Linked DNA regions of Homo sapiens: region 1 is linked to region 2. Evidence: fine-mapped expression QTL. A gene starts in region 2. The other region holds a variant in brackets. All regions are shown on one strand. Distances are from middle to middle.

What was found. PIP is the estimated chance that this variant, and not a neighbour inherited with it, causes the effect. A credible set is the group of variants that fine-mapping cannot tell apart.
Region 1: its variant is the best candidate, but not a certain one, in a credible set for the expression of CLYBL in whole blood (INTERVAL, PIP 0.79).

What each region holds. Positions count from the first base shown.
Region 1 is chr13:99,870,924-99,876,301 of GRCh38, reverse strand. It overlaps CLYBL (citramalyl-CoA lyase), which reads right to left. Exons shown (of 9, transcript NM_206808.5): 7 at 5,240-5,364. The region is part of intron 1 of CLYBL-AS3 (CLYBL antisense RNA 3); the gene reads left to right. Among named protein-coding and RNA genes, the nearest start is that of CLYBL-AS3, 84 kb to the left of the region's middle. The variant AG/G (reference allele first, on the strand shown) is at 3,358.
Region 2 is chr13:99,604,047-99,609,424 of GRCh38, reverse strand. CLYBL (citramalyl-CoA lyase) reads right to left here and starts at 2,735. Exons shown (of 9, transcript NM_206808.5): 1 at 2,668-2,735. The coding sequence starts at 2,729. It overlaps LOC105370332 (a long non-coding RNA gene), which reads left to right and starts at 3,576. Exons shown (of 3, transcript XR_931674.3): 1 at 3,576-3,663. RefSeq lists a silencer at 2,395-2,954 and enhancers at 2,676-2,970, 2,893-3,872.

The sequences.
Region 1 (5,378 bases), 270 kb before region 2:
TTACAGTCACCCGCTACCACACCCAGCTGATTTTTTGTATTTTTGGTAGAGACGGGGTTTTACTATGTTGGCAAGGCTGGTCTCAAACTCCTGACCTTGTGATCTGCCCACCTCGGCCTCTCAAAGTGCTGGGATTACAGGTGTGAACCACTGCACCCGGCCTATTAAAAACACTCTTATCTTCTAATACCAAACCAGCCATTTGCCACTAAAAAAAAAAAAAAAAAAAAAAGTGAAATAGAATATGATATGATTTCAATACTTTGTAGCAATTCATTACTTTGCTTTAAATGTTTAAAATTTCGCAATTTTGTGTTAATCCATCCAATCTTAAAGTCATCATTGGCAGACTCAGATTTTCTAAGAACTGGACTTTTAAAAATCAAAATTATGGCCGATCTTTCTGAAAATGTTAAATGAGCAGGGAAATAAAGAGAAAAGTGCAATTACTAAGAATCTCTAAAACAGAGTTATGTCCCTTTATCTTTCATTTTCACTACAAACCTCTCAGCTCTGATTTTCGTGTTCCTGCTCATAAATCCAGAGGGAAGGCTGTGGGTCGTGGGCTGGATGGGTGTGGGAGGATACACTGTTGTCTAATAGTGGAATCAACCCTTTCAGTTGACAAAGACAACAACCACGTCTTTAGATGGTTTATTTGATCTGCGTGAAAGAGTGGCAGTGGGATTTCTGGCACTTGAATAAGCGGAAACAATATTTTTGGCTAGAGAAACTTCTCCTGAGTTCTCTCAGGGAGGCTTCTAGAAGGCCATCTGGACCAAGCAATATTTCTTTTGTAAAGCCTTGCATTTGGAAACAGAAATGAAAGGTGTGCGAGCAGCAATCAGACACCTATGAAAATGATGGGCTTTCAATATTTTGGGAGGAGGGATGTATTACTGTTTGTAAAGTTTCTAGATGAAGAGACTTACATAAGGAAAAAAACTCTTACTTTCCTTTTTCTTTCTTTATTAAGAGATGTTTCCAGTTTATATTCCAGCAGAAGATGTGCTTACTAATGTGAACTTATCAGCTTGCACTGTTTTTCTCTCCTGAGTGAAATGAGAATGTTGGTTGCGTGATGCTTACAGTTGTTAGGCCAGGTAGTGATCTTGTTTCTGACATTTGTAATTGTTAATTGAACCTAGAATTTAAAGATGAATACTTCCCCTTCCTCAGTCTTTAGCCAACTTGTGAAGCTATAACGAAGGAGAAATATTGAAAAAGCCAAACAAAATCCTTCCAAAACCAAACAAAGCACGTACAGCCATGATATGAATCAAAGAGAATGTCTGGAAAACTGAAAATGAAGCAAAGCCATATTTGTAGCCAGATACTGCAAAATATGAATATTCTAGCAGAGTATCTTTAAAATTTTGACACACGTAATATATTGTGCTATTCCTTCGCATTCTTCTGTTAGAGTCTCCATTTGGAAAGAAATAGTAAATTCCTATATTAACATTTCCTGTGATTAGTGACTGTTTTAAAAAAGCAACTGACTGTTTCCTTTAGCTGTCATTTTTGCCTAAGAGTGATGAATATGGAAAGATAAAAACTTTAGCACTAAGCTCATAATATAGATTTGAGGAAATACACGTTATCATACATACTTGAATGTTTATATGTTGTATAAACATGTATGCTATATGTGTTTATATAAAATTATTTCTATTGATATCAATATTAGATGATTATTTGCTTGAGATGTTTTCAAGTATCCAATTTTTACAGTATATAAAATTCTTTATTGATAAAAAAGAACTGTTGAAATCCTATTACTTTAATAAGCATATTAAATTCAGTTCTGAATGAAGAATTTTCAAATATTAATGGAATCACCATTATTATAAAAAAAGACATAAAAATGGAATTAACTTTTAAGAAAATCCTTTATAAATTTAAAACAAATCATGTGGAAATGATTTATCCTGCCTAAAGCATTTTACCAAATAATTTGAAACTAAAATAATTAATGGTATGCACGTTGTATCTCAAAAAACATTTTTCTGGAAGGATGGAAGAAAGTCAGTTTGATTAATATTGTGGATGGAAACCTTACAGCTGATGTCAGCTAAATTAAAAACATTTTAGTTTCTGGGAATTAACATAGGAGCAGAGATTATTTGGAATCTTTAAACTTTTTCCAACAGATTTTAATAAGATAAGATAACCTAGAGTCCCCAGTGTCAGTCTCTAGCCCTAACTCTGATTACTGGACTACGGTGCCAAGCAAAATTTTTTAGCCTGAAAATATCTTTCAGTTTCCTGAAACAAAGCAGCCACAAGAATCGCTGCCTGCCAAACAGGGACAGATGATATGAGCTGATTGTTATTTGTTTTAATGTAAAGTGATTGTCAACCAACATTATACCAAGGACACCAAACTTTATTTCCTTAGGACTTTTAATTAAAATAAACATCCCCAAAATTCTGTAATACCAAAGTCTGAACTCCAATAATTTATCTGCTCATGGTCTAAGTAGTCCCATGAATTTTGCCATTTGGACAGGACAGGAAGAAAGGGTAGAGCTTTTATGTTTGAATAATAGTAATGATTATTACTATAGAAAACACAAATGGCTCAGCACTAACTGTGAACTTCAGCTATACCTTTATGTTTGGCTAACTGTGAACTTCAGCTATACCTTTATGTTTGGGCAGGATATAATTTAAGATGAGAGCAGGAAGAAGTGCAGAAAAGCAAAGATACATAATTTTTCCTTCTTGGGTCATTTCTACTTAAAAGCATTACTTGAATGAAATTTTCATCAGAGGGAGGAAAAAGGTCTTTTGGAAATTTGTGACTGTCACACTAGGACACAAACCATCAGTTTCCTATCTTTGAGAGAGTCATCTGTGCTTTGGACAAAATATCTGAGGGTTCACGTGTTCATCAGTGATTCACATTTGACATAAAACAGACTAGATGTTTGTTGGAAGCAATACTTTATATAATTGTGCAACCTATTTACACAAAATCTTTACAAACAGAACCCACATTATTTAAACCCCAAGATCCCCTCAAGATCCAGAGTCACCTACCTGCAGATCCAATTTCTGTGACCGGCCAGTTTATAGGCAAAGTGAAAGAAACATGCTAACTGGATAAAATAACCATATGTCCCTACTGGAAGCCCCATTACTTGAATCATTTCAACCTTGCTGGACAAAACACCAGGAGAATTTGCTATAGGAAACAAACCTCCACAAATGGGGCAGGGAAGAAATTACCTAATAGTTAGTCTCCCCTCTGCTCTAATTTCTATGGTTCTGTGTTAAGAAAAGCCATCCTGCCACACTGTTGTGAGAGCTTATGCCCCAACGAGAGGGCATTTCTTATTTAAAAAAAAAAAA[AG/G]TCCAGAATTGAACATTTAAGTTGCCATCATCAAAAGGTGTGAAAACTTTGGGAGCGTTTTCCCAGGGAACAACGCTTTTCAAGATACAATGGAAAAGGGCCATTTTCCTCATTCAAAAACTTAAATGCTGAGCAAAGCAAGTGTTTCTGGTTTGACTTCTGTTTGTTGGCTACTGAAATTCAGGGTAAACTCTCCCACACCCCTATCTGCTTACAATGCCAACTGCCCTCCTTTGATGCTACCCAATGTGAAACCCAGCTGGGATGGGTCATAGACACAGTGCTGGCCCAGACTGGAACTCTGCTCTCTCGTTTCAATGGTCCACATGCTGCCTCAGTTTCCTATTTCACCAGGAGGTGTTTATGACATGCCTGTCCTCAGCTGGCACAAGGCTTGTAGCAGAGGTATAGAGCATTCGGTGTGGGTATGCGTGGGCAGGTATGCAAGGGAAGGGGATGGATGGACATGTGAATGAGAGTCCGTGGCTCTTCGTTCTAGGTGAATAGATTTACTCATGGGAATCTTGATCTGGGGTTAAGACACAAAAATGGACACTAAACACAAGGTCAACTTAAAATATTGTTTCTATGAAATGCATTACTTTTCTGATGGCCACTGTTGATGGGAAATGGAAAGATGCTATTTATCATGAAATTGGTGTAAGTCCAAATTGGGTATTTCCAACGTAATATATTCTGCCTTTGGAGATTAAGTGTGAGTTTGTACAAAGATGAGCCTGCTGGTGTGTGAGTGTGCCCATGTGTGCATGGGTTGAATGTGGACATCCTTAGGGAATGACCCATTTAATATTGTTGCCCACTTTGGCAAGTCCTGGGATTTTCAGGTGTCCTTGCTGCCAGTGAAAAGTGCGAGGGACATGTCTCACATGGATGTCACAGGTTCAGGGTCACCACTAAAAACCAGTTTTTCTTTTTCTTTTTTTTTTTTTTTTGCAGGGGGGAATGTTTAATATTCAGAACTGTAATAAATTTTCAATATTCTTTCTCCTAAGTAATTTTGCATTATAGGTATCAAAACTTTACTCCTTCTGGAAGTCACAGGCTGAGTTTAGAGATTACCTCTAGGATAGATTTATAAATGTAACTTTCCCTCCTATCCTCTTAAAAAGAGGCAAACGGTATTATTGCAAATAACCTTTAAGATAATTAACTGACAATGCTGCAACTAGCATAAAATCTTCCTTCAGGCGACACCTAATTTAAGTGTTACTGGCACAAAGTGGAGACAGATTGTGCATTACCACTGCAATATTTACATAGCAGAAACCCACAGAGCAGGAAACGCGAGGCTCAATGATGCACTAAATTAGGAACAACCGTACTCCAGTGTTAATTTGCTTTCCATTCCATCCAAATCTCAGGTCCAGAAATTGGTACAAACACATATACAACCTCCCACTCTTAAATGACTAAACCGGAGGAGATTTCTGTACTTTTTTCCCCCCAAATTAAAATAACTTGCAATTTATTTCTTTCCTCCACAAGAACCATTTAGTCAAACTGTGTTTATTTCATTACAACTTGTTCTCACTTTGATCTAGGATTATTTTCATATGAATGCTGCATAGAAGTCTGTAGAGAAAAACTAAACAGACTTCTATTTTCTCTAAGGCTGCCAATATATTTTATGAAAAGAATAAAATGAGGGACTTGAGAGCCAGTTAGTGAAGTATTTAGGAACATGGGCAGGGCAAATCTATCTCAAGCAATTTTCTCACTGGTGAATGTTGTGTTCCCTCCCTTTCCCCCCTCTCCAGATACGATGAGTTTTCTTAAACCATTCACACAACATATTTGTTTCATTCTTCCCGACAATATTTTCAATACTGCTCTCACCCAAGGCATTAACAAAACATTTACCTTTCCTAATTGTTGATGTTCTTTAAAGGCAGCAATCAGTTCTTCAGCCCACTTAATTTTTTCAGGGGAAGGAGAAAACTGCTCCTGGACCACGGCAATTTGGTTAGGGTGAATCACCTGCTTACCTACAAGAATATTA
Region 2 (5,378 bases):
GGCAGGTGGATCACGAGGTCAGAAGATCGAGACCATCCTGGCCAACATGGTGAAACCCCGTCTCTACTAAAAATACAAAAATTAGCTGGACGTGGTGGCGCGTGCCTGTAATCCCAACTACTCGGGAAGCTGGAGCAGGAGAATCGCTTGAACCCGGGAGTCAGAGGTTGCAGTGGGCAGAAATTGCGCCACTGAACTCCAGCCTGGTGACAGAGCAAGACTCTGTCTCAAAAAAAAAAAAAAAAAAAAAAAAAACAAAGACAGGTCAATTGACATTGTCCAGCCTGAGGAACAGAAAGAAAATGGAACAGTCTCAAAGACCTGTGGGGTTCCATCAACTACACCAACATATACGCAATGGGAGCCTCCGAAAGAGAAGAGAGAGATAAGAGAGTAGACTTTTTTGAGAGAACAATAGCCAAAAACTTCCCAAATTTGATGTATACACATCCAAGAAACTCAATAAACTTCCAAGAGGATAAACTCAAACAGATCTACACACATCATAATAAAACCACCGAAAGACCAAGACAAAGAGAAAATCAAGCAAAAAAAAAAAAAAAAAAAAAAAAAAAAAGACTCATCACTTACATAGAACCCTAATAACATTAACGTCTGAATTCTCATTAGAATAATGGAGGCAAAAAGACAGTGCGATAATACGCTTTAAAATGCTCAAAGGAAAAAAAATGCCAATCAAGAATCCTATATTCAGCGGGTAGACATGTCGAGAACAGACCAGTGTGCTAAGGCGGGTGAGGAGCACTGAGTTAACCCCCAGCGTACTGGCGTGGGGACTGTGTGCGCTCACTGGACCCGCTACTGAACAGGTCACAGACGCTGGCCCCCTCAAAAGGCGCCAGAAAAGGACCCTTCTGGACCAGCCTGGATACACTGCCTGAGCTGCTCCTCTAGGGCGAGGGGTGACTCCCCTGTGCCAGGGGCAGCGGAGGAAATGGGAAAGTGGGATGCATAAGACTAGGTGGGTCCTCCCATAGGACATGGGTGACTGAAGAGTCACAGTGCAAGAAGACGTAAGAAGTTCAGACCCAGGCCGGGCACGGTGGCTCACGCCTTTAATCCCAACACTTTGGGAGGCCGAGGCAGGTGGATCACCCGAGGTCAGGAGCTCCAGACCAGCCTGGCCAACATGGTGAAACCTCGTCTCTATTAAAAATACAAAAATTAGCCGGGCATGGTGGCGGACGCCCTGTAATCCCAACTACTCCGGAGGCTGCGGCAGGAGAATCACTTGAATCCGGGAGGCGGAGGTTGCAGTCAGCTGAGATGGCGCCATTGCACTCCAGCCTGGGCGACAAAAGCGAAACTCCATCTCGGAAAAAAAAAAAAAAAAAAAAAAAAAGAAGTTCCAGACCACCAGGCCGGCCATGGTGGCTCACGCCTGTAATCCCAGCACTTTGGGAGGCTGATCCGGGTGGACCCCCTTGAGGTCAGGAGTTCGAGAACAGCCTGGCCAACATGGCGAAACTCTGTCTCTACTAAAAATACAAAAATTAGCCAGGGGTGGTGGTGCACACCTGTAATGCCAGCCACTCAGGAGGCTGAGGCATGAGAATCGCTTGAACCCAGGAGGTGGAGGTTGCAGTAAGCCGAGATTACACCACTGTACTACAGCCTAGGTGACAGACCGAGACTCTGTCTCAAAAAATAAAAATAAATAAATAAAGAAGTTCCAGACCAGGAGCCATACACTTAGTGTTTGAACCAAACTCTCTCATTACTGGTCATAGGGCTTTGAGAATCCTTAACCTTTCTGACCCTGTTTTTTCATCTTTATAAACATGACACCCAACTTCTTCACATGGTGGTCAAGGGAACCAAATGAGACCATGTATGTGCACGTACCTAGGCGATGGGCAAGTGCTAGACCAGCGGTTCTCAAAGTGTGGTCCAAAGACACCTGAGGGGGTCCCTGAGACCCGTTGAGAGGGTCTGCTTGGTCCTCCCTTTCCCAACTAATATCTGCATCTGCATGAGCCCAGAATTTCTTTCAAATATTTCCTTCAAAACAGCTGATATGAGACTCCAGCTGTCCTTTATTAAACCAAAGAAATTTTCAAAAATATAAAAACCATGAGCCAATCTTCTCACTTTTTTTTTGAGAAGTTATGCATTAAAGTGTTATTTGTATTAAAAGTTAATGGGTTTGTTATTAAGTGAATATTTTTTAAATTTCTGGTTTAATTCCTCATGCACAAAAATCAATAGATATAAGCAAAAGCTTTGGGGGGTCCTCAAATTATTTTTAGACGTGTAAACGGGTCCTGAGACCAAACCGTTTGGGAACCGCTGTGTTAAACGAACCGCAGGTGTTCTTCACCAGGCAAGCCGCCTCTCAAAGACTGGCGCGTTCACGTTTGCCATTTGGGGGAGGCAGGCAGTTTTGTTTCCTGGGGCTGAGTCCAGGTAATTCGACCTAAGGTGTGTACCCATTTTCCGGGTGCAACGAGGGCCCTCCCAAAGGGAGGCGCGGGCGGCAGCGACCTTGGACGAGGTCGAGCCAGCGCGTGGGAGGCGCATGGTGCTTCCGTCCGGCTGGGTTCCCGTGAGGGCTTGGGGAGGCCGCGCCCGGCCCGCGGGGCTGCAACAGGAGCCGACCCGCGGCGAGCCGGGCCGGGAAGGCGGGGAACGGGGACCTGCACTCACAGCCTCAGCAGCGCCGCCGCCGCAGCTCCGCGCGCCGCCCTCCGCAGCAGACGTAGCGCCATCTTCCCGACGCGCGCGCCCCGCCCTTTGCCTTTAGCCACGCCCACCCCACATTCCACGCCCCCACGGCGACACCGACCCCCCCCCCGTCCCAGGCCCCGCCTCGCTCTGTCTTCGCCCCGCCCCGTCCCGCCAGCCACACCCCGCCAGCCACGCCCTCCTTCCTCCCAGCACCCGCTCCGCCCCGCGGCGAGTCCCGAGGTCAACTGCCCTCCCGGCCAGGGCTTAGGACCTTCGTCCCCGCTGTCATGGGGGACAGAGCAGAGGATCTGAATGGTTGGGGCCTCTTTGAGGGGCCTCTCTGGTGACCGAATCCAACTCTCTGAGCTTCTGAGTTTTTGAGGCAACTGTTGACAGACTGCGTTTTCCCAGCCAGAAGAGCCAACATTTCTAGGGATTTCTTCGCAGCTTTTGTTGTTAAAATACCGCCTAATACTTTGTGAGCCCCATCATGTGCATATCTTGGTTAGCAATTAATCTAGAGTGGTCAAAGTGCAGGAAGGCTGCATCCTGGAACACACATGCCTGCAATAGGTCAGAGCAGCTGTTGGCACTCTCTGGGCAGGGAAACTGACAGCAGCTCTTTACTCTGCCCCCTGCAGCCGTTCTGCAGCGGTGAGAACGCCGAGGCGTTAAAACAGGCTGGGCCCTGCCCCTGCCTCTTCTTTCACCTTCCCTGATCCAGCCGGCCTCCACCTGCCGACCTTCACCTACCCGGGCCCATGTTACCCCTTAACCATGTCTTTTCCTTGGCACTCGGCATGTTTCTTTTTCAGCTGTGACTCCGTTCCATTCATGCTCTAGACTTAAACCTGAAACCGTTTCTCAGAACCTTCCAGTGGAAGCTGACTTGTGCTCTTGGATGCAAAAAGTGGCCGTTTAAACAAACAAAAGCCTTTTCAGCCAGAGGGGGTTCCAAGATTTGGAAAAGTCCAGGTGACTGGGAACATGGATGCTAAACTTCTGCTGAGCCTAAGAATTATTGTTATATTCGATACCAACAGGGGAGACTGCTCAACCCCTTGGTGCCCTCCCCCAGCTCCCACGCCTGCTCCACCTCAGGCCTCGCCTGTCTACTCCAATTTGGTCACTTTCTTGTCACCACCTTAGTCCCAGCCAGTGCCCGGTCCAGCCATACTGAAGCCTGAGGCAAAGGCAATTTCAGTAACACCAATCCTGTCTTTAATTAAAATTTTGATATTTTGTTCATAATGGGATTTTTCCATTATCTTGGTTTTTAGTTTAGAATATTACTTTTTTTTTTTTTTTGAGACAGTCTTGCTCTGTCGCCCAGGCTGTAGTGCAGTGGCACGATCTCAGCTCACACACTGTAACCTCCACCTCCTAGGCTTGAGTGATTCTCACCCCTCAGCCTCCTGAGTAGCTGGGACTACAGGCAAGTGCCACCACTTCCAACTAATTGTTTTGTATTTTTAGTAGAGATAGGGTTTCACCATGTTGGCTAGGCTGGTCTCGAACTCGTGGCCTCAAGTGATCCATCCGCGTCAGCCTCCCAAAGTGCTGGGCTTACAGGCATGAGCCACCATGCCAGGCCAATATTACTTATCTTTTTTTTTTTTTTTTTTTCTGAGATGGAGTCTCGCTCTGTCGCCCAGGCTGGAGTGCAGTAATTACTGAGACTTCTCCTTAAATTTTGCATCCCAGGCTGGGGCTGCACTCACCTCACTCAAGTCTGATTCTGGACATCATCATCCTTTACCTGGATTATTTCAAAGCCTCCTTGCTCCCATTCTTCCCTCCTACAATCACCCGTTTGCCATAAAACCTGGCTGACCTTTTAAAAGCATGACGCAGCTCCTAGTTCCAGAGTTGACTTGCTGTGTGACTTTGGTCAAGTTTCTTAAGCTCTCTGTTTCCTCATCTATAAAATGGGGGTATAAATACCTCATCACCTCATAGGCTTGTTATAATGATAGACTGAGTTTACATATACATAGAGAGAGACTGCACACTTAAAATCTAAGCAAGTTCTCAGTAGTGTTAACTATTCCTCATTATTATTGTCATTGCATCGCTTCCCTTCTTAAAACCCTTTAGTGGCTTTAGAATAAAATCCGAGTTCTTCCCCATGACCCTTAAAGCCTCACACGGTCTGGCCCCTGCCAGCCTCTCCAATTTATCTCCAGCCCCACTCATCTTCTGTCTGTGTTTTCTAAGTCCACGAGGCTCTCTCCCACCGTGGGGCCTTCACACATGCCGTTCCTCATCCCCAGAATGCTCATGGCTACACCTGCTCATCCTCCAGGACCTTCAGCCTACGTGCCACCTCCTCACAGGGGCCTGTGCTAATAACCTAAAGATCCCCAACGGCGCCCCCACATCTATTTCACTGTCACAGTGCCTGGTCATCTCCACCACAATGTCGATATATGAGTTTGTGAATTTATTAGGTTCATGCCAAAGTAATTGCGGTTTTTGCCATTCAAAGTAATGGCAAGAACAATTTCATCTTATATGTATTGAATACCTGCCAGGTAGGATTCACTGAGCCAGGTGCTGGGAGCACAGCAGTGACAAGACATACAAGGTCCCTGCTCTCAAAAAACTTACAGAATTGAAAATAATGGCAAAACCCACAATTACTTTTGCACCGACCTAATACTTCTTTATTGTGCCTTTCCCCAGCAGTT